Homo sapiens: one gene and its partners. The protein of the gene in region 2 purifies or fractionates together with the protein of the main gene of each other region. This does not show direct contact. Each region holds a gene or a part of one and is shown on either strand. Other genes may lie near its edges.

Region 1 (4,149 bases), on a different chromosome or scaffold from region 2:
TGCTGACCTTCCCTCCACTATTGTCCTACGATCCTGCCAAATCCCCCTCTGCGAGAAACACCCAAGAATCATCAATTAAAAAAAAAAAAAAAAAGTGAGACTCCATCTCAAATAAGAAAAAAAAAGATTATCTCAATCCCTACTTATACCACTATGTTTCTAAAGTGCCATTCCTACTCTCCCTCATTCCCCACATCCTTTCAGTACCTTTTCACTGTCCCCAGGTACACTTCCCGAACCACAGCAATAAAGGAAACTCATCGTAAGTAATGACCGCTTGCTTGTCAACTGGGCAGATTGGGTAGGCCACAAGCACTCACTGGTTTAGCTGCATTCTCCTTTATCAAGGAATTTAATACTTATTTATCAGGGTTTCCAGAAAAATACGTGGCCATAAACGAGTCACAATTCTGCATCTCTAATATTCAAATCCAAACCATTTTGAAAGTTCAAACTTCGAATTTCTATGTAATTCAAGACTCTCCTAGATTTATTTAACCACATCTCCAATTAATCCTGATTCATTTCTGGCCTCTACCACCTGCCCACCTATGAAATGTATCTTCCATGTTTAATTTAGAATTCTGTATATTCAGTTCAGCTTGTATTAAAAACTAAGAATTTTAAAATAGGAAAATGGAGACACACATACAACCTGCATCTGGTGGGTTAAGTATACAGATATGGCACTACTTTCTGTAAATAATGCAAATACTCAACATTTGAAAAGTTTACTGAAAACTTTTATTGTAATCAAAAAGTGACATAACAGGGTTGTAATGAATTCAGCAAATCATTCTGCTGATATTTTAGAACTTATATCAGCTTTTGCCAGGCAATTAAAAAATTCAAATGTGAAAATTTCACATTACAGTAAACTCCACCCCAACTAATTAATGGTGGTTAAAAATAATAGGCCCTAGCAAAACCTCTCATGTTACATGGTCACAACTCACAATTCTGTACAAAAGTTCGTGTTATAAAGCTCTGATGTAAAAATCAAATAATCAAGCAGCAATATTTTAAGTGCAGCACAGGGTCTTCCATGTCATTATTTACAAGGCTTGAATCTCTTTACATTATAACAAAATTTAATACAGATGACTTAGTAATTAAGTCAATTTAAAAAATCTGTCTTTTTACACAGTGACAGATTTCACTTTTTGGTCATCTTTCTCCTTCTCCTTCTCTTTATCTTTGTTCTTCTTTGACTTCTTTTTCTTGTGTTTGTGTTTTTGGCTTTTTTCCAATTCCACTTCAGTGCCTGCATGTTTCTTATGCTTCTTATGCTTTTTATGTTTCTTGTGTTTTTTCTTTTCCTTCTTTTTCTTCTTCTTCTTGCTGTCCTGACTTTCTGCTGAGCTGGCACTGCTACTGTGGCTTCGGGTCTGGCTTCCAGAAGGACTGTGGCTTCTGCTGGGGCTGACGCTGGGGCTGCTGTGGCTCTGATTCCTGCTTATGCCCACCTGGACAACTGCTGCTGTGTCCAGGCTCTCTTTTGCTTTCTCCACTATTTTATCTTTCAGGTCCTTAGAAATGTTTCCTGAAGATTCCTCTTCTTTTACAGAAACATTACTTTCACTGTCACTTTCATTATAGTCTGGTTCAAAAGCAGCTTCATCAGTTTCTCTAGTTAAGTCAGAGGAAAGTCTAGAGGAATGACTTAACTGGGGTTTAGGCTTGACAGTACTCTTGTCAATTTGCCCAGTAATTTGCTCTTTTTCAACCTGTGTCTCTGGTGGGTTAAGTATATAAAGTAGTTTATTGCCACTTGACTCTTTATTGTTCCTTGCTTCTAATACATGCTTCTCACGATCCTTACAAGGATTTTTATCTACAGATTTTGTCTCTTCATTTGGCCGTTTAGTATCATAAGTGGCTTTGTGATCATGAGGTTTTCTGTCTCTTGAGGGACTAGAATTACTTTTTTTGGAATCTCCTGTTCCTTTTTTAGGCAAATCTCTCTCTTCCCTTGGTTTATTTTTCTGTCCAGATGCAGAATCTTTATTCCGAGAAGGAGAGTCTTTTCGTCTTGTTAATTCATTCTTTTCATCTCTACGTTTGGAACTTGAATACTCTCTGGTGTCATAGTCAGTTTTTTTGTCTCTATTGGGAGTGAAGTCTTTATTTGAGGAAGCACGAGTGGAATCATGTTTATCTGACGTTCTAGCCTCTTTGGAAGATTGAGACAGACTTTTAAAATTTCCTTGTTCATTCAGACGGTCCAAATTACTCTCTTTCTCTGGCTGAGTGCTGTTCTTCCTCTTTTCAGGGTTCTCCTTTTCCAACACTGAATAATCTCGATCTTTGGTTTTCCCTTTTTCACTAGATGCAGAGTTTTTTGAACTTTTAACCTCATGTTGTATGATTTCATGGCTCACGTCCTTGGTGAATTTCTGAATTTTCTCGGATGGCTCACTTTCTTTCTCAGGATACTTGACTATATTTGATGGCTTTGTACTAACATTTTTTATAACACTAGCAGGTTTTCCTACACTTGATATAGGCTGTGTGGATTTAACATCTTCTTCTTCAGATTCAAAGTCATCTTTATCCCATTTGGATTGAGGAACCTGAATCATAATGATAACATCTTCAGCTGGCGCGGTATTGTCATTATTATATTCTTCCATCGTTTTAATCACAGTTCGCTTTGTATCTGTTTTTTCTTCAGATTTCCGCACAGGACTGCCTCCAGTTGAGCTCGTACTAAAAAGAATAACAAAATATTTTTAATTAATGAAGAATTTACTATTAATTATAAAACACTGATAAATATAAAAATGCTAACTTAAACACAAATGTCCTTTTAACATTAAAAAAAACAAAAAACTTATTCTGCCCTAAGGAAGACACACAATTTAAGATTATGATTGTATCAACACAAATGTGGCTCACCCCCAAAATCTATTTACAACCTTGTCTTTGGCAATTCCCTTCTTCAAAGACAACAAAAGACTACATAAAACCAGCCTACTTCCCTAGATCAGCATTCATAATTAATATAAAAAGCACAAGCATGGATAAAACTGAAGAAAATCCTTCTCCCAACAAAGTTCCACACCCACCCCCTACACTCAGCTACCTGGTGTAATCCACCAGAGTTGAGCTGGATCCTTCAGTTCCAGTCACTTTTCGTCTGACCTTTCCTTTGACTTTTTCTTGTTTAACTTTGCTAGATGTTGACTCCAATTTTTCAGAGGGTTCTTTTGTGTTTGATATATTTTCTGTACTTCCAATTTTCTTCCCAGTTTCTCTGTTGAGTTTGATTTTTTTGGCTGGCGCACTTAAAGAAATTTTGTCCTTTTCAGGGGTCCTATCCATTTTTTCAGTATCAGGTTCCATTTTGCGCTTTGGTGATGGTTTCACTATTTCAGTCACTTCTAGTTTCGAGATTTTCATTGAAGAAGACTCAAAATCTTTATCTACGCCTTTTTCTTCAGTTTTTCTTTTTCTTTTTTCTCCCTTATTATCAAGTGGTTTGTTTTTCTCATTAGGCTTCTTGGCCTTTTCTTCCTTAGTTGTTAGCTTTTCTGATTTGACATCTTTGGAATAGTCCTTCTTCACTTTTTCCTCTTTGACTGGTTTTGTTTCTTGGTGTTCTTTTGCTGATTTAGAGTGAGCTTTTCTGGGGGTTCCAGTGATTTTTTCATCCTTCTGAGAGGAAGATGATGATTTAGTATTGTCAGTCTTCGGAGTCTCCTCTTTGGCTTTTTTAATTGGAGGTTCAGATCGAGGAGATCTCTCACGTTCTCCATCTACTTTTTCTTGGGGTCCTTTAGCAGGTTTTACAATATTTTCTTTTTTGGACACAGCAGATCCATCATTCTTCCGTTTGGTTTTATCACCCTTTGCTTTTGGTTTATCCCTTTCTCTCTTGTCTTTTTCAGACACTGATTTAAAAGTGATTGATTCTGCATCCATTGGTTCATCTCTAACAGGTGTGGCATCATCTCTACTTGGGAGAACAAACAATGAGTCTGTTTTATTTTCTTCAACACCTGTAGGTTCTCTTGATTTCCTAGAAGTCTCTAATAACTCTGGGTTCAGAAAACCCTCACTTTCCTCCCCTTTTCTTCTTTTTCTGTGTTTCTTATGCTTATTTCCTTTACCATCTCCTGGAGCGTTTTCACTCTCCTTCTCTTTTGA
Region 2 (5,428 bases):
AGGTGCCTGCCACCATGCCCAGCCAATTTTTTGTATTTTTAGTAGAGACGGGGTTTCACCGTGGTCCCGATCTCGTGATCTCGTGATCCACCCGCCTCGGCCTCCCAAAGTGCTGGGATTACAGGTGTAAGCCACTGCGCCCGGCAAATGAACATCGTGAGCCAGCCAGGAGGGTTGTATATTTAAAAACATTATCAAAACCCCTACTTATGTTTTTTTTCTTTTTTGAGAAAGAGTCTCACTCTGTTGCCCAGGCTCACTGCAACCTCTGCCTCCCAAGTTCAAGTGATTCCTGTGCCTCAGCTCCCGAGCAGCTGGGATTACAGGCATGTGCCACCACACCTGGCTGATTTTTTATTTTTTTTTAGTAGAAGCAGGGTTTTGCCATGTTGCCCCTTGCCAGAATCAATTCTAATTATAGGAAAAAAGTTTCTGAGTAATCAAAATTTTGCACATATTTCTGGTGGATTTCATAGTTTAGCTTAGGAAACTTGAACTCTTACTGAGTTGGTCTGCCCATGTAGATGCCTGGTGTTGGTGTGTGCGCTCTCTTGGTTATAGAATAATCCACCCGAATTCTTCTACCATCCAGCTCCATTCCATTTGCCCTTTCCATAGCCTATAAAGAACAGGCACAAAAAGTCACGTATAATTCACCAGTCTTGAAGTAATCATTACTTAAAATTAAGCACAAAGTATATGTAATCCAAATAAACTCCTGATTTTGAAAATGACAGCAATGTAGCTTGTACAGGGCATTGTATAGACAATTCTAGACCTCAACAATGTCCAGAACACATTTAAATTTACTCAGCAGAAAGAGTAGTTAATAAACTTTCCCAAATAATTTTCCAGTTCTGGTTCAATTCCCATTCCCCACTCCATGAGATCAACAAAGAGTAGTTAACAAACTTTCCTAAATAATTTTCCAGTTCTGGTTCAATTCCCATTCCCCACTCCATGAGATCAACAGGGGAGCGGAGACTGAAGTCTTTTCAAGCTAAATTTTTTGTAGGTTGCCCAGGTAGACTGCCATTTCATACTTTCTAGTCTCCAGCGATTTCACTTACAAAGACTGACTTCAGAACATTAAAAAGGGTTTGCTAAGCTTTATACATGTTCTTTTTATAACCTGCCCCCAATCTTATTCTTTAGTTTGCAGTCTAGTACACTGATTAAGACTCAGTGAGCAGCCAAGAAGAAATGATATAAACAGACAAGAACAAATTTATCGTAATGCCTTTCAACCTTTTATTGAGACTGAACTAATAAAAGTATAATAAACTAATAAAAACTACACAATTTTTATGTATCCACAAATATTTCTCCGTAAGAGTGTCCCATAAACTAAAGGTCATTAAAAAAAAAAAAAAAAAAAAAAGGAGGTCTCACTCCATTGCCCAGGCTGGCAGTGGATCATAGTTCACTGTGGCCTCAAACTTCTTGGCTTATGCAATCCTCCAGCCTTAGTCTCCTAAGTAGCTAGGACCACAGGTTTGTGCCACCATGCTCGGCTAATTAAAACAAAAATTCTTGGTAGAGAAGGGGTCTAAACAGTATTCCATTCAATGGAATGCATTTTATTATTTATTTATGAGACCAAGTTTCGCTCTTGTTGCACAGGCTGGAGTGCAATGGCGTGACCTCGGTTCACTGCAGCCTCTGCCTCCCAGGTTCAAGTGATTCTCCTGCCTCAGCCTCCCAAGTAGCTGGGACTACAGGCATGCGCCACCATGCCCAGCTAATTTTTTGTATTTTTAGTAGAGATGGGGTTTCACCATGTTGGCCAGGATGGTCTCGATCTCTTGACCTTGTGATCCTCCTGCCTTGGCCTCCCAAAGTGCTGGGATTACAGGCGTAAGCCACCACGCCTGGCCTGCATGCATTTATTTTTGTAGAGACAAGATCTGTTGCCCAGGCTGGTCTCTTAACTCGTGGCCTCAAGTGGCCTTCCCACCTCAGCCTCCCAAATAGCATGAGCCGCCTTGCACAGCCTAATTCTTGAAGATAAGAGTTGTCTCTTTGGTCTCTTTGAAAAGAACTCTGAGAGTATTATTTGTTTCTGGGACAATTTTTTTTTCCTATTCTCTCACACACATATATATATTTGTAGAGACCAAGTCTCCCTATGTTTCCCCAGGCTGGTCTCAAACTCCTGGGCTCAAGTAAATCCTCTTGCCAAAGTGCTGGGATTAGAGGCATGAGCCACCACACCCGGTCCAATTTTTAAAAAGAACTTTACATCACATAAATGTCTGCAAAAGCAAAGCTGCAACAAATTTAACACATCTTCCATTTGAAGTTCCAAAAATCAAAATTCTCTAAGTTGATCTCCCTGCACCCCATCCTAAGCACCCCCCAAAAAAACACACACAAAATCTCTAAGTACTTCTTACTAAAACAGGGTGAGGAGCTTATATTATTATCTTCACCATATGCACACTAATAACTTTGAAACTTCAGTGAAATTTTCAGAATCAGGGAGAAGTTAGTCAAAAAGGAATACAAATTTTAAAAAGATTTTAAAAATCACTTTAGGCTGGGCGCGATGGCTCACACCTGTACTCCCAGCACTTTGGGAGGCCAAGATGGGGGGATCATGAGGTATCAAGAGATCAAGACCATCCTGGCCAACATGGTGAAACCCCATCTCTACTAAAAATACAAAAATTAGCTGGGTGTGGTGGCATGCACCTATAGTCCTAGCTACTCGGGAGGCAGAGGCAGAATTGCTTGAACCCGGGAGGCAGAGGTTGCAGTGAGCCGAGATTGTGCCACTGCCCTCCAGCCTGGCAACAGAGCAAGACTCCGTCTCAAAAAAAAAAAATCACTTTAGCCAAGTGAAGTGGCTCATGCCTGTAATCCTGGCACTTTGGGGAGGCCAAATCACTTGAGGTCCAGAGTTTGAGGCTAGCCTGGGCAATGGGGCAAAACCCCGTCTCTACCAAAAAATACAAAAATTAGCCGGGCATGGTGGTGCGCACCTGTTGTCCCAGCTACTCGGGAGGCTAAGGTGGGAAGATCACTTGAGCCTGGGAGGCGGAAGTTGCAGTGAGCTGAGATCGTGCCACCACACTCCAGCCTAGGCGACAGGGCAAAGAGCAAGACCTCATCTCCAAACAAACAAAGAAACAACAAACAAACAACAAAAAAAGAAAAAAATCAAATCACTTCAGATTGCCTGTCCCTAAAGACTGGAGACAGTCTCAGCCATACAGAAGAAACCATACAACATGCCTGTGTTAGCTGAGAATTCAGCCTGGGCAACTGAAAAGAGAAACTGTGATTTAGCTGACAAGCCTCGTCACCCCGCTCCTTAAGTAACATATTGTCACCTAGTGAACTAAAAGGAACTTCTAATCCTGCCACTAAGTAACTGCTCCTGTCTTTAAAGTTGCCAGTTAAGCTTTTTTTTCTTTTCTTTTTGAGATGAAGTGGAGTCTCACTCTGTTGCCCAGGCTGGAGTGAAGTGGCACAAACTTAGCTCACTGCAACCTCCGCCTCCTAGGTTCAAGCAATTCTCCTGCCTCAGCCTCCCGAGTAGCTTGGGGTTACAGGCGCTTGCCACAATGCCCGGCTAATTTTTGTATTTTAGCAGATGGGGTTTCACCCTGTTGGCCAGGCTGGTCTTGAACTCCTGACCTCAGGTGATCTGCCCGCCTCAGCCTCCCGAAGTGCTGGGATTACAAGGTGCGAGCCACTGTGCCCGGCCTGCCATTTTAGTTTTATCCAGAAGTGGAAGGGGACAGGTGGAATCAAGAGATAAACACGTTTCACATTAAAAAATATTAATAATAAAAAAATTACACTGTTCTGGCTTGCATTTTGCAACTTTTACTTCAGCTCAGATATCCTAGTATTTCTAAATTGATAACATGTATCTCTTAATTGAGAAAAGGAATATATAAATCACAAATACGTAACAGTAAAAAAAAAAATCATAAGACTGACAAATTAAGGCATTAAACTGCCTGTGACATAAATGACTTAAAAACTAAAGTACTAGTTTGTTAGAGTTATCCGGGGTTTCTCAACCTTAGCACTATTGACATTTTGAGACTGATTCTATGTTATGGGGTGCCAGCTTGTGTACTGTATGGTTATTTAGCAGTGTTCCTGGCTTCTACCCACCAGATGCCAAGAACTTACTGTTTTTAAAAGATAGCCTTATTTGGCCAGGCGCGGTGGCTCACACCTGTAATTCCAACACCTTGGGAGGCTGAGGCGGGTGGATCACGAGGTCAGGAGATTGAGATCATCCTGGCTAACACAGTGAAACCCTGCCTCTACTAAAAATACAAAAAATTAGCTGGACATGGTGGCGGGCGTCTGTAGTCCCAGCTACTCGGGAGGCTGAGGCAGGAGAATGGCATGAACCCGGGAGGTAGAGCTTGCAGTGAGCTGAGATCGCGCCACTGCACTCCAGCCTGGGCGACAGAGCGAGACTCCATCTCAAAAAAAAAAAAAAAAAAAAAAAAAAAAAAAAAAAAAAAAGAAAAGAAAAGAAAAGAAAAACACCCTGATTATTAAGGTCTAATAAAACTTCCAGATATATACAAATATATATATATTAATTTAAAAGACAGAAGGTCTAACAAAACTAAAAGTATTGAGCTTCAAATTCTTTAAAATGCAATTTTCTAAATCAATTACTATCAACTTTTAGTAAAGAGTAAGCGAGCCTAGGCCAGGTATGGTGGTTCACATCAGTAATTCTAGCACCTTGGGAAGCCAAGGCAGGAGGAACAGTTGAGGCCAGGAGTTGTTCCGAGACCAGCCTAAGCAACACAGCAAGACTCCCTGCAAAAACTTAAAGCAAGCCTACCACTTCCTTTATAATACCGAACATGTTAGAATAGCACTATTTCAAGTCATTGACATTGATTAGTTCATTGTGTTAGGCAAGTTAAGAATAGCACTAAAAAATTATCAATTCTTTCCATGTACTATTTTTCAATTATTGAACACACTGATAAATGAACATTTAGAGAATAGAAAAACAAGTTCCTTCCTCATTATAGACACAAAATTAAACATATCAAACCCACACATCAGAATTATTTTTTAAAAGTTAATGTAATCATCTGTTTGGAGCATCATTATGGCTTATTCAAAAGAGAACACTTACACATATACTTTTTCCATTAATTTAAACACATATAGCTCACTTTACACAGCCAGATTTCAATTAGGATATGCCTATAGCAGAGAGCATAACCAAAAAAAGTGAAACTGTAGTCACTCCAATTGTTAACACTGAGAGGCAGAGTTTGAATCAGGTCAAAATTAGAAAGGACACAACAGGCCATGTATGATGGCTCATGCCTGTAAACCCAGCATTCTGGGAGGATCACTTGAGGCCAGGAGTTCGAGATCAGCCTGGGCAACATAGTGAGACCTCATCTCTACAACAAAAAATTATCTGGGC
Region 3 (4,851 bases), on a different chromosome or scaffold from region 2:
TGCAGGCTCCTAGTTAAGCCCACTCCCACCAGCTAACTAAAGATATGCTGCTTGAGCACAAAGGAGATTCACTTAAACCGCCTCTGCTACACATTACGTGTATGACGTACTGCCTCCCTTTCACAGTTTTGCCCTGAACATCTGCTTCTTAGATCTAAGTGATTATACTCAATAAATAGTGTAGAGACCAGAACTCTGGGCCTTTTGCAGCCTCCATTTTGCAACTGGCCCCCTGGCTCCCACCTTTATGAACTCTTAACCTGTCTCTTCTCATTCCTTTGTCGCCACCGGACTTCAGGTACCCTACGGATGGTGTTGAGGCTGGTCCCCTACATTCTGGTGCCCAACATGAGGCCCGAAAGAATCCAGTGAAGGCATGCTCAAGCGTGTGAAATGGAGGACCGACAGACAAAGGACTCCCAAAGACGAAAAAGTTTTAAGCTCCGCAGGTGAGCGGGGCACTTGGAGAAAGCTAGGGACACAAATGGGACAAACTGAAAGTAAGTACGCCATGTATTTGAGCTTGCTATGGCAGCTCTTGAAGCGTAGTGGTGTAAAAGTTGATACAAAAAATCTTATGGATTTGTTTTATGCTGTGGAACAATTTTGCCCTTGGTTCCCGGAACAGAGAACTTTGGAATTGAAAGATTGGGAAAGAATTGGAAAGGACCTTAAAAGAGCACAAAGAAAGGGAAAGGAAATTCCTTTGCCTGTTTGGTCAGTTTGGTCATTGGTGTGTACAGCACTGGAGGCTTTTCAGATAGATGATGAGGCTGAGTCAGAGGAGAGAGAGGAGTTTAATGATCAGGACTCTGAACCACCCCTACCAAGTACTAATAAAAAGGGAGAGTCCAGAGTGTTGCAGGAAGTCAGGGACCCCAAACAGAGGGACCGGCTGAAGCCATGGCAGAAGAACATAAATTGTGAAGATTTCATGGACATTTGTTAGTTCCCTAAATTAATACTTTTATAATTTCTTACACCTGTCTTTACTGTAATCTCTGAACATAAATTGTGAAGATTTCATGGACATTTATCACCTCCCCAATCAATACTCTTATAATTTCCTATGCCTGTCTTTACTTTAATCTCTTAATCCCGTCATCTTCGTAAGCTGGGGATGTATATCGCCTGAGGACCCTGTGATGATTGCATTACCTGTACAAATTGTTTGTAAAGCATTTGTGTTTGAATAATGTGAAATCTGGGCACCTTGAAAAGAACAGGATAACAACGATTTTCGGGGAACAAGGGAGATAACCATAAAGTCTGACTGCCTGTGGGGCCAGGCAGAACAGAGTCATATTTCTCTTCTTTCAGAAAGCGAATAGGAGAAATATCGCTGAATTCTTTTCTCAGCAAGGAATAACCCTGGGAAAACGAATGCATTCCCAGGGAGACATCTGTAAAATCGCTGCTCTGGGAGTGTCTGTCTTATGCAGTTGGAGATAAGGGATGAAATATGCCCTGGTCTCCTGCAGCACCCTCAGGCTTGCTAGGATTAGGAAATTCCAGCCTGGCGAATTCTAGTCAGATCGGTTGTCTGCTCTCGAACCCTGTTTCCTGTTAAGATGTTTATCAATATCAACGTCCAATGTGCCCAGCGGGACATGGACCTTCATCAGTAATTCTAGTTTCGCCCTGGCCTTGTGATCTCGCTCTGCCTCTCTGCCTTTGTGATATTTTACTGCCTCTGAAGCATGTGACCTCTGTGACCCACTCCCTATTCGTACACCCCTCCCCTTTTGAAATCCATAATAAAAACTTGCTGGTTTTGCGGCTCAGGGGCATCATGGAACCTGCTGAAATGTGATGTCACCCCCGGAGACCCAGCTGTAGAATTTCTCTTTTGCACTCTTTCTCTTTATTTCTCAGACTGGCACACTTACGGAAAATAGAACCTATGTTGAAATATTGGGGGCTGGTTCCCCCGATACCGGAGGTGATTTCTACCAATCCCCCCGGTCTCCCTAAACCTACACAGAAAATTGTTCAGCCCGCAGCTTCTTCAGAGAAATGTCCGGAATGGCCACCTCCTCCTCAGCTGAGTGAGTGCAGGGGGAGGGAGCCTGAAACTCAGCTTGCCGCACCCATTACTGCCCAACCTGCAGTTCACTATGGTGAAGAAGCAATTCAGGCTCACCCTGCAGCATCCTGTCTGGGTCGAACAGTGGCCGCTCCCTCAGAAAAACTTGGGGGCGTTCCATGAAATAGTTAAAAAACTACTAGAAAAAGGATATATTTCACCCACTTTCTCTCCTTGGAATTCCCCAGTATATGTAATTTTAAAAAAAGTATGGTAGATGGTGCATGCTGACCGACTTGCAAGAGGTCAACGCTGTAATGCAACCAATGGGAGCTTTACAACCAGGGCTCCCATCCCCCACCATGCTCCCTAAAGACTGGCTGCTTGTTATTATAGATTTAAAAGACTGCTTCTTTACAATTCCTTTGGCAGAGACAGATTTTGAAAAATTTGCCTTTACTATCCCTGCCATTAATAACAAAGAACCTGCAGCCAGATATCATTGGAAGGTTTTACCCCAAGGTATGTTAAACAGTTCCACAGTTTGTCAAACTTTTGTAGGCAAAGCTATCCAGCTAGTTAGAGATCAATTTCCAGATTGTTACATCATTCATTATATGGATGACATACTATGTGCAACAAAAAATAGAGACCAACTTATTCAATGTTATTCATCTTTGCAAAAGGCAATTACAAATGCTGGATTGCTTATAACACCTGACAAAATTCAAACAACTCTTCCTTTTCAATATTTGGGGATACAAGTACAAGATAGAGCCATTAAGCCTCAAAAGGTTCAAATCAGAAAAGATTCTTTAAAAACCTTAAATGATTTTCAAAAATTGTTAGGAGACATTAATTGGATTCAGCCCACCTTAGGAATTTCTACTTATGCTATGTCTAATATTTTCTAAATATTGAGGGGAGATTGCAACTTACACCATAAAAGAGAATTAACACCCAAGGCCATGAATGAGTTAAGAGTAATTGAAAAAAAAAAATTCAGCAAGCCCAGGTTAGTAGGATTGACTCAGTCTTGCCTTTTCAATTCATTGTGTTCCCTACTTCACACTCCTCAATGAGGGTTATTGTTCAAAATAATGATTTGGTTGAATGGTCTTTTTTGCCATATAATACCATGAAAACACTTACAGTCTATGTAGATCAGATCACAATTTTAATTGGACAGGCTCATATGCAAATTGTTAAACTTTATGGCACTGAGCCCAATAAGATTATAGTTCCAATAAATAAAAGTCACATTAAGCAGGCATTTATTAACTCAGTTACATGGCAAGTTAATTTAGCAGAATTTATTGAATGTATTGATAATCATCATCCTAAAAATAAAATTTTCCAGTTCTTAAAATTAACTACATAGGTTCTTCCGAAAATTACTCGTGATGCCCCTTTGGAAGGAGCCATGATTGTTTTTACTGATGGCTCCAGTACTGGGAAAGCGGCATATGTGGGACCTTGTGGTAAAGTTATCCACACTAACTCTTCCTCAGTCCAAAGAGCTAAATTACAGGCAATGATTGCAGTATTAGAAGATTTTAATCAGCCAGTTAATACTGTTTCAGATTCAGCTTATGTTGTATAAGCTACTCAGCATATTGAAACTGCCTTAATTAAATATATTATTGATAAACAGCTTTATCAATTGTTCAACTCTTTACAAACAGCTGTGTGTGCTCGGGATTTTCCTTTCTATATAACTCATATCCGAGCACATACCAATCTTCCAGGACCCTTGACTGAGGCTAATGAGCAAGCTGACTTGTTGGTTTCCCCCATACTTACTGATGCCCAGACTTTCCACTCATTAACACACCTTAATGTAACAGGACTTACAAACAACTATCAAATTATGTGGAAACAGGCCAAGGACATTGTACAACATCGTCCTCAGTGCCAGGTACTGCAACTACCGTATCAAGGAACTGGTGTTAACCCTCGAGGGTTGGCACCTAACATGATCTGGCAAATGGACGTCACCCACATTCCTGCATTTGGCAAACTTTCTTATGTCCATGTGACCATAGATACATATTCTCATTTATATGGTCTACTTGCCAAACCAGCCAGACTACAACACATATAAAAAGACACTTGCTTTCCTGTTTTACTGTCATGGGAATTCCACAAAAATTAAAAACAGACAACAGACCAGGCTACTGTAGTAGATCTTTCCAAACATTTTTAAAACAACAGAGCATTGAACACAGTACGGTTATCCCCTATAATTCTCAAAGGCAAGCGATTGTTGAGCGAGCCAACTGAACCTTAAAAATGCAATTACATAAAAAGAAAATAGGGGGAGATAGGGAATATTCCACCCCTCATATGCAGTTACAATTGGCTCTTGTTACCTTAAATTTTTTGAACATCTTCCGCAATCAGGTTACTATAGCAGCTGAAGAGCATTTAACAGGACAGAAGGTAAATGTTCATGAAGGAAAACCTGTGTGGTGGAAGGACTTTAAAACAAAGACCTGGGAAAAAGAGAGATATAACATGGGGAAGAGGGTTTGTTTGTATTTCCCCAGAAGAAAACCAGCTTCCAGTTTGGGTACCTACAAGACATCTTAAATTCTACCATGAGCAAATTTCCAAAGAAGAGAAAAGGATTTTGGAACCAAGATCTCCACTCCCAGCACGCCTGATGGCTCGAATGAACATTTCAGCCAACCAGATGAAGACCAACAAAACCCATCAAGCGAGCCCACCAACTTGGGGACAGATCAAGAGGCTGACCCACCTTGCAGAAGAAAACCTGAAAACACAACAAAAACCACTAACCTCGAGTAACCTGATGGTAGCTA
Region 4 (4,851 bases), on a different chromosome or scaffold from region 2:
GTTTGGGCCATTCCGCTGGCCCCTCCTTCACTCCATGAGCATAGACAAGAGGGCGGGCCCGGGCAAGCTCATGCCTCTGCTGCACCTGCGGCCTGCCTCAGTTCCCAAGCTCCCCAAAAGTGATCTTCTCGCCTAAATGTGGTTCTAACACCCCAAAACAAGTGATTTTTGCACAACACAGCCCTAACTGCAGGCCAATCACTTCACCTGGTACTCAACCAAACAGTAATGTGTTCCCACATGGGCAAGAAATGACTACATGGGACCTCAAGATGTTGGTCTTCAATAGGGCACCTTCCTTAGATTTCTAAGAGGAATTTTAATTACACTCCATTTTTATCTTAGGCACTGACCTTAGAACTGAATCCTGGAGAGAGCTGAGACTCTTCTGTGGCAGTACCATGGGACACATAGAAGTAGCCTATACCCTGGCTCTGGAAGTTGGGGACTGCCTCCTAGAAGGGCCCCTAAGACCTTAAGTTGGTGAGGGGAAGATTGAGGCGGGAGGGGGAGAAGCCTGGGCGGAAGCATGTCACTGGAGGTAGAAACAGCTCTGTGCACAGTCTGTAGGGCTAGTGAGATCAAGATACATTTAGGGAACTGGTGAGCAGAGGGCAGGGGAGATGGGGAGAACAGGCCAGGGATACTGCCAGAGGATAGACCTTGGTGAGCCTCATAACATGCTATCAAAAAGGGTGGAATTTATGTATGTATGTATTTTTTGAGACAGGTCTTGCTCTGCTGCCCAGGCTGGAGTGCAGTGGCTTGATCATAGCTCACCACAGCCTTGAATTACTGGGCTCATGCGATCAGGAGTGTGGAATTTATTCTCGGGGCAATAGTGAAGCTTTGGAAAACGTTCAAGCAGAGGAATAACAGAATCAGATATATATTTAAGAAAGTTCATCCTGAAGCATGTGAAAAGGTGCCCGACATCATTAGTCATTAGGGAAATACAAATCAAAACCACAATGAGAGCCAGGCGTGGTGGCTCATGCCTGTAATCTCGGCACTTTGGGAGGTCAAGGCAGGAGGATCACTTGAGGCCAGGAGTGCTAGACGGCCTGGGCAACATAACGAAACCCCATCTGTACAAAATGTATTTTAAAAAGAAAAAATAAAAACAAAAAACTACAATGAGATACCACTTCACACCAGAAAATAATGAGTGTTGGTGGAGATGTGGAGAAACTGGAACCCTCGCACACTGCTGGTGGAATGGAAAATGATACAGCTGCTTGGAAAAACCACCTGGTGGTTCCTGAAAAGGTTAAAGATAATTATGACTCAGCAATTCCACTCCTAGGTATATACCCAAGAGTCATGAAAATACCTGTCCCTGCAAAAACTTGTTCGGGAATGTTCGTAGCAACACTATTCATAATAGCCAAAAAGTAGGGCCAGGTGCAGTGGCTCACACCTGTAATCCCAGAACTTTGGGAGGAAGAGGTGGGCAGATCACCTGAGGTCAGGAGTTCGAGACCAGCCTGACCAACATGGTGAAACCCTGTCTCTACTAAAAATACAAAAAATTAGCCAGCGTGGTGGCACATGCCTGTAATCCCAGCTACTCTGGAGGCTGAGGCAGGAGAATCGCTTGAACCCCGGAGGTGGAGGTTGCAGTGGGCCGAGATCGTGCCATTGCACTCCAGCCTGCACAACAAGAGCGAAACTGTGTCTCAAAAATAAATAATAGAAATAGAAATATATATATATAGCCCTAAAGTAGAAACAACTCAAATGCCCATTAACCAATGTGGATTAAAAAAAAGGTGGCATACCCATAAAATGGACTATTATTTGGCAATTTTAAAAAATGAAATACTGATAGAAGCTATGACATGGATGAACCTCAGAAATATGTTAAGAAGCCAGTCACAAATAGACACATAGTATATGATCCCATTTATATGAACTATCCAGAACAGGCAAATCCACAGAGAGAGAAGGAAGATCAGTGGTGGCCAGAGGCTAAGAGGGAAGAGGGAATAGGGAGAATTGCTAATGGACTCAGGGTTTCTTTGGGTGATCAAAGTGTTTTAAAATTGATTACGGTGCTGGTGCATAACTGTAAATATACTAAAAGCCACTCAAGTGTACACTTTAAATGGCTGAACTGTATGCAAATTACATCTAAATTAAGCTGGTAACAACAACAAAGGTTCATCCCGCTGCAGTGTGCAGAATGGAGACAGGGCAGAGACCAGTGAAGAGGCTGCTGTACAAATGCAGCTGGAAAGGGCAGTGGCTGAAGAACGGAGAGGGGTTCACAGGATCAGACTACAAGGGGGCCAGAGGAGGAGACTACATCCTGAGGACGCCACAAATTATCCTGGGTACCTGGTAACTCTCCAGAGAGGAGAGTGGGAAACAAATGAGGTATCTGCAATTATCATCAAGCAGCAAACATGTATGTAAAATCTCCTACACATAAGACTAAGAGGAACACACAAAGTGTGCAGCCCTGTGCCCACATGTGTGGGGAGTGTCCAGGGTAAAATCACGCCCAGCTGCCTGCCACGGGCCTGTCCTGACTATCCATTCTTACTCTTAAACTCCAAAGAAAAGGCCTCATCATTCAGGACACACTCAAGATGTTGCAAGATCTGAGTGACTGAGAGTGGGCAGGAGGGTTAGAGAAACTAATAAGGCCAGTAACTCCGAGAAGTAAAAATCTTTAAAGCTGCCTTTCTGGGTTCTCTCTGTGTGTCTGTGAAAACTGTAAGGTTACTCGAGTGTGTATTTCTCTTGGTTACATCAAAGACCCAGTTTTGACTGCACACCACCTCCTTCCAGAATGGCTTCGCTGATCTGTAGCAGGAGACTGCTGAGTGCTGAAAGGCCGTGGAACAAATGGACCTGAGCTGCTGGTGTAAAACCAAAAGGAAAGTCTGTGAAGGAGCATATTCTAAACCCTGCAGAGGCATGCCAGCTGGGACGCTGACCACAAGACATCTTTGCCCCGTCAGTAGAAGCAGAGACTGTGCTGGGATGGGAATAAGCCCCTGTCTACACCTCATGCGCGCCCTCAGTTGTCTCCCTGGCGCCTCCTCCACCTGCAGTAGAAATTCATGCTGGCGAGCCCACTGCCGTCACAGCTTGGGAAGAGTAAACCGCCACTGAGATGCACCAACAAAGCCAGGAATTCTGGTAACAGCCCACTCAACTGCTAGACGGGAAAACTGAGGCCCAGGTCCATGGAGCAGAGCCAGGGGTTGGCATCCAGGTGTCCGATTCTCAGGCCCCCGCACTCCTCACTCTACCAACTCCCCAAACCCTGACCCTTCCTAAGAACCTGGCTCTCAGCTGTATGCTTCACAGGGAAAGAAAAGCTGAGAAATCTCAGATGTCTTAAGTCTCAACTGGCAGAGAAACCAGAACCATCTCTTTCCTAGAATCCTAATAAGAAGCTGAAATATATCATGGTTATATCCTCTAATCTCTCTAAAGGGAGGGAGAAAAAGCAAGGTTAATCAACAAAATATGGGACAATACAGTTTTTGTTGCAGCTCTCAAATCTTGCAGCCCTTTACTTCCTTTATTAATAACAGTGTTCTGCATTAATTCGTGCCACAGTGTAATCAACTATCAATGTGACCATTAGCTCCGCCACAAGTAAAGATCGACAGGATCCAGGCTGCACTGTGTGCACAACAGCCCAGGCAGGTGAAGAGTCGTGACATCGCAAAAAGGACCACGGTTTATTACCATCTCTAACGCCCATGTTCCAGCAAACCGAAGAAAAACACTGTTTCTTAAAACTGCAGAGGAATACAAAATTAAATACTACAAAACAAAAATCAGACAGGAAGACGAAACAATCTACCTCCTCCTAATGGTAAAATAATCTGAAAGGAGTTTAAAAATAAATGAACTAAAATTTTTATAACTATTATCTTTTCTGCCAATTTTGAAGATGTCTTCAGGTGCCACAACGTGGGGACAGAAAGAATAAATATCAATGTATAACTTCTAGAGTGATAATAAACAACAGGACCCCATCTCAGATGGATGGATTTTTTTTCCTACTGGAGCCAAAAAACAAGCTGAACTCTATGTACAACAGACAGACTATACAACTAGGAGCATTTAAAAATAATAAGACTCCTCTCTCTGCCTTCTTCCAAAGAATAGAATATATATTTAACAGCACAAAAGACGACACCACTTGAGCTTCCCCTTTAGCCAACAGGAAGAATTTCCACATATAAAAATTAAAAATTTAAACTTTCAAATCATTCATGTTTTAAACATAATACAGACTTAAAAATTCTTCAACATTGACCCATAATCCCACCCCAGCACAAAAATCAACCCCAAATCCAGACGTCACAGTTTTTTGTTCCTAAAAATCCCACAGCACTGAACTTGATCTTCACATCAAGCTGACAGCACGTAAGAGGCCCATGCCATGAGCAATCCCCGAGGGAAGAACGGAAGCACAGTCAATGCTGCAGCTCTTATCTACCTGGGCGGCACTGGTGCACCTCTGAGGTCAGGTCCGTGAGATTCGCCCCACACTAGGGTCCCGGAAGGGTGAGCTGGCCGCTTCCCTCCTCTTCCCCCTCGAAGGATGTCCAATAAGCACCTGGGAATTGACTTTTCTTGGGAAAAGGGTGCTGGTAACAGCTGTCAGGGCCAAGGCAATAGTGAGAAGTTCAGTTCTCTGCTCTTTGGATGAACTGTGTAAAACATTTCTTTTAAAAGACACAATGTTAAAAATATTAAGAAAAATGTCTACAAAATCTGGAGGGCTGCCTTTTTCTCAAAGGGTAAAGCCTGTGGGGTGGTGGGAAAGGAATCGAGGGCCCAGAACTACAACTCTGCAGCGAAAGATAGAGATGCCCTTGA

What was found.
Region 1: the proteins of TRA2A (region 2) and RBBP6 purify together in Homo sapiens (affinity purification with mass spectrometry; 3 studies listed by BioGRID and IntAct, with this or other methods). This does not show direct contact.
Region 3: the proteins of TRA2A (region 2) and DAP3 purify together in Homo sapiens (affinity purification with mass spectrometry; 3 studies listed by BioGRID and IntAct, with this or other methods). This does not show direct contact.
Region 4: the proteins of TRA2A (region 2) and NCBP3 purify together in Homo sapiens (affinity purification with mass spectrometry; 3 studies listed by BioGRID and IntAct, with this or other methods). This does not show direct contact.

Annotation. Positions count from the first base shown.
Region 1 is NC_000016.10:24,569,436-24,573,584, reverse strand, and holds the end of RBBP6 (E3 ubiquitin-protein ligase RBBP6), read right to left. Parts: coding exon 3,086-4,149; intron 2,710-3,085; coding exon 1,140-2,709; 3' UTR 722-1,139; downstream 1-721. UniProt on the Homo sapiens protein: E3 ubiquitin-protein ligase which promotes ubiquitination of YBX1, leading to its degradation by the proteasome.
Region 2 is NC_000007.14:23,506,917-23,512,344, forward strand, and holds part of TRA2A (transformer-2 protein homolog alpha), read right to left. Parts: intron 620-5,428; coding exon 504-619; intron 1-503. UniProt on the Homo sapiens protein: Sequence-specific RNA-binding protein which participates in the control of pre-mRNA splicing.
Region 3 is NC_000001.11:155,694,461-155,699,311, reverse strand, and holds part of DAP3 (small ribosomal subunit protein mS29), read right to left. Parts: exon of another isoform or gene 299-4,851; intron 1-298. UniProt on the Homo sapiens protein: As a component of the mitochondrial small ribosomal subunit, it plays a role in the translation of mitochondrial mRNAs. Involved in mediating interferon-gamma-induced cell death. Displays GTPase activity in vitro.
Region 4 is NC_000017.11:3,808,026-3,812,876, forward strand, and holds part of NCBP3 (nuclear cap-binding protein subunit 3), read right to left. Parts: 3' UTR 4,630-4,851; coding exon of another isoform or gene 4,521-4,629; 3' UTR 1-4,520. UniProt on the Homo sapiens protein: Associates with NCBP1/CBP80 to form an alternative cap-binding complex (CBC) which plays a key role in mRNA export. NCBP3 serves as adapter protein linking the capped RNAs (m7GpppG-capped RNA) to NCBP1/CBP80.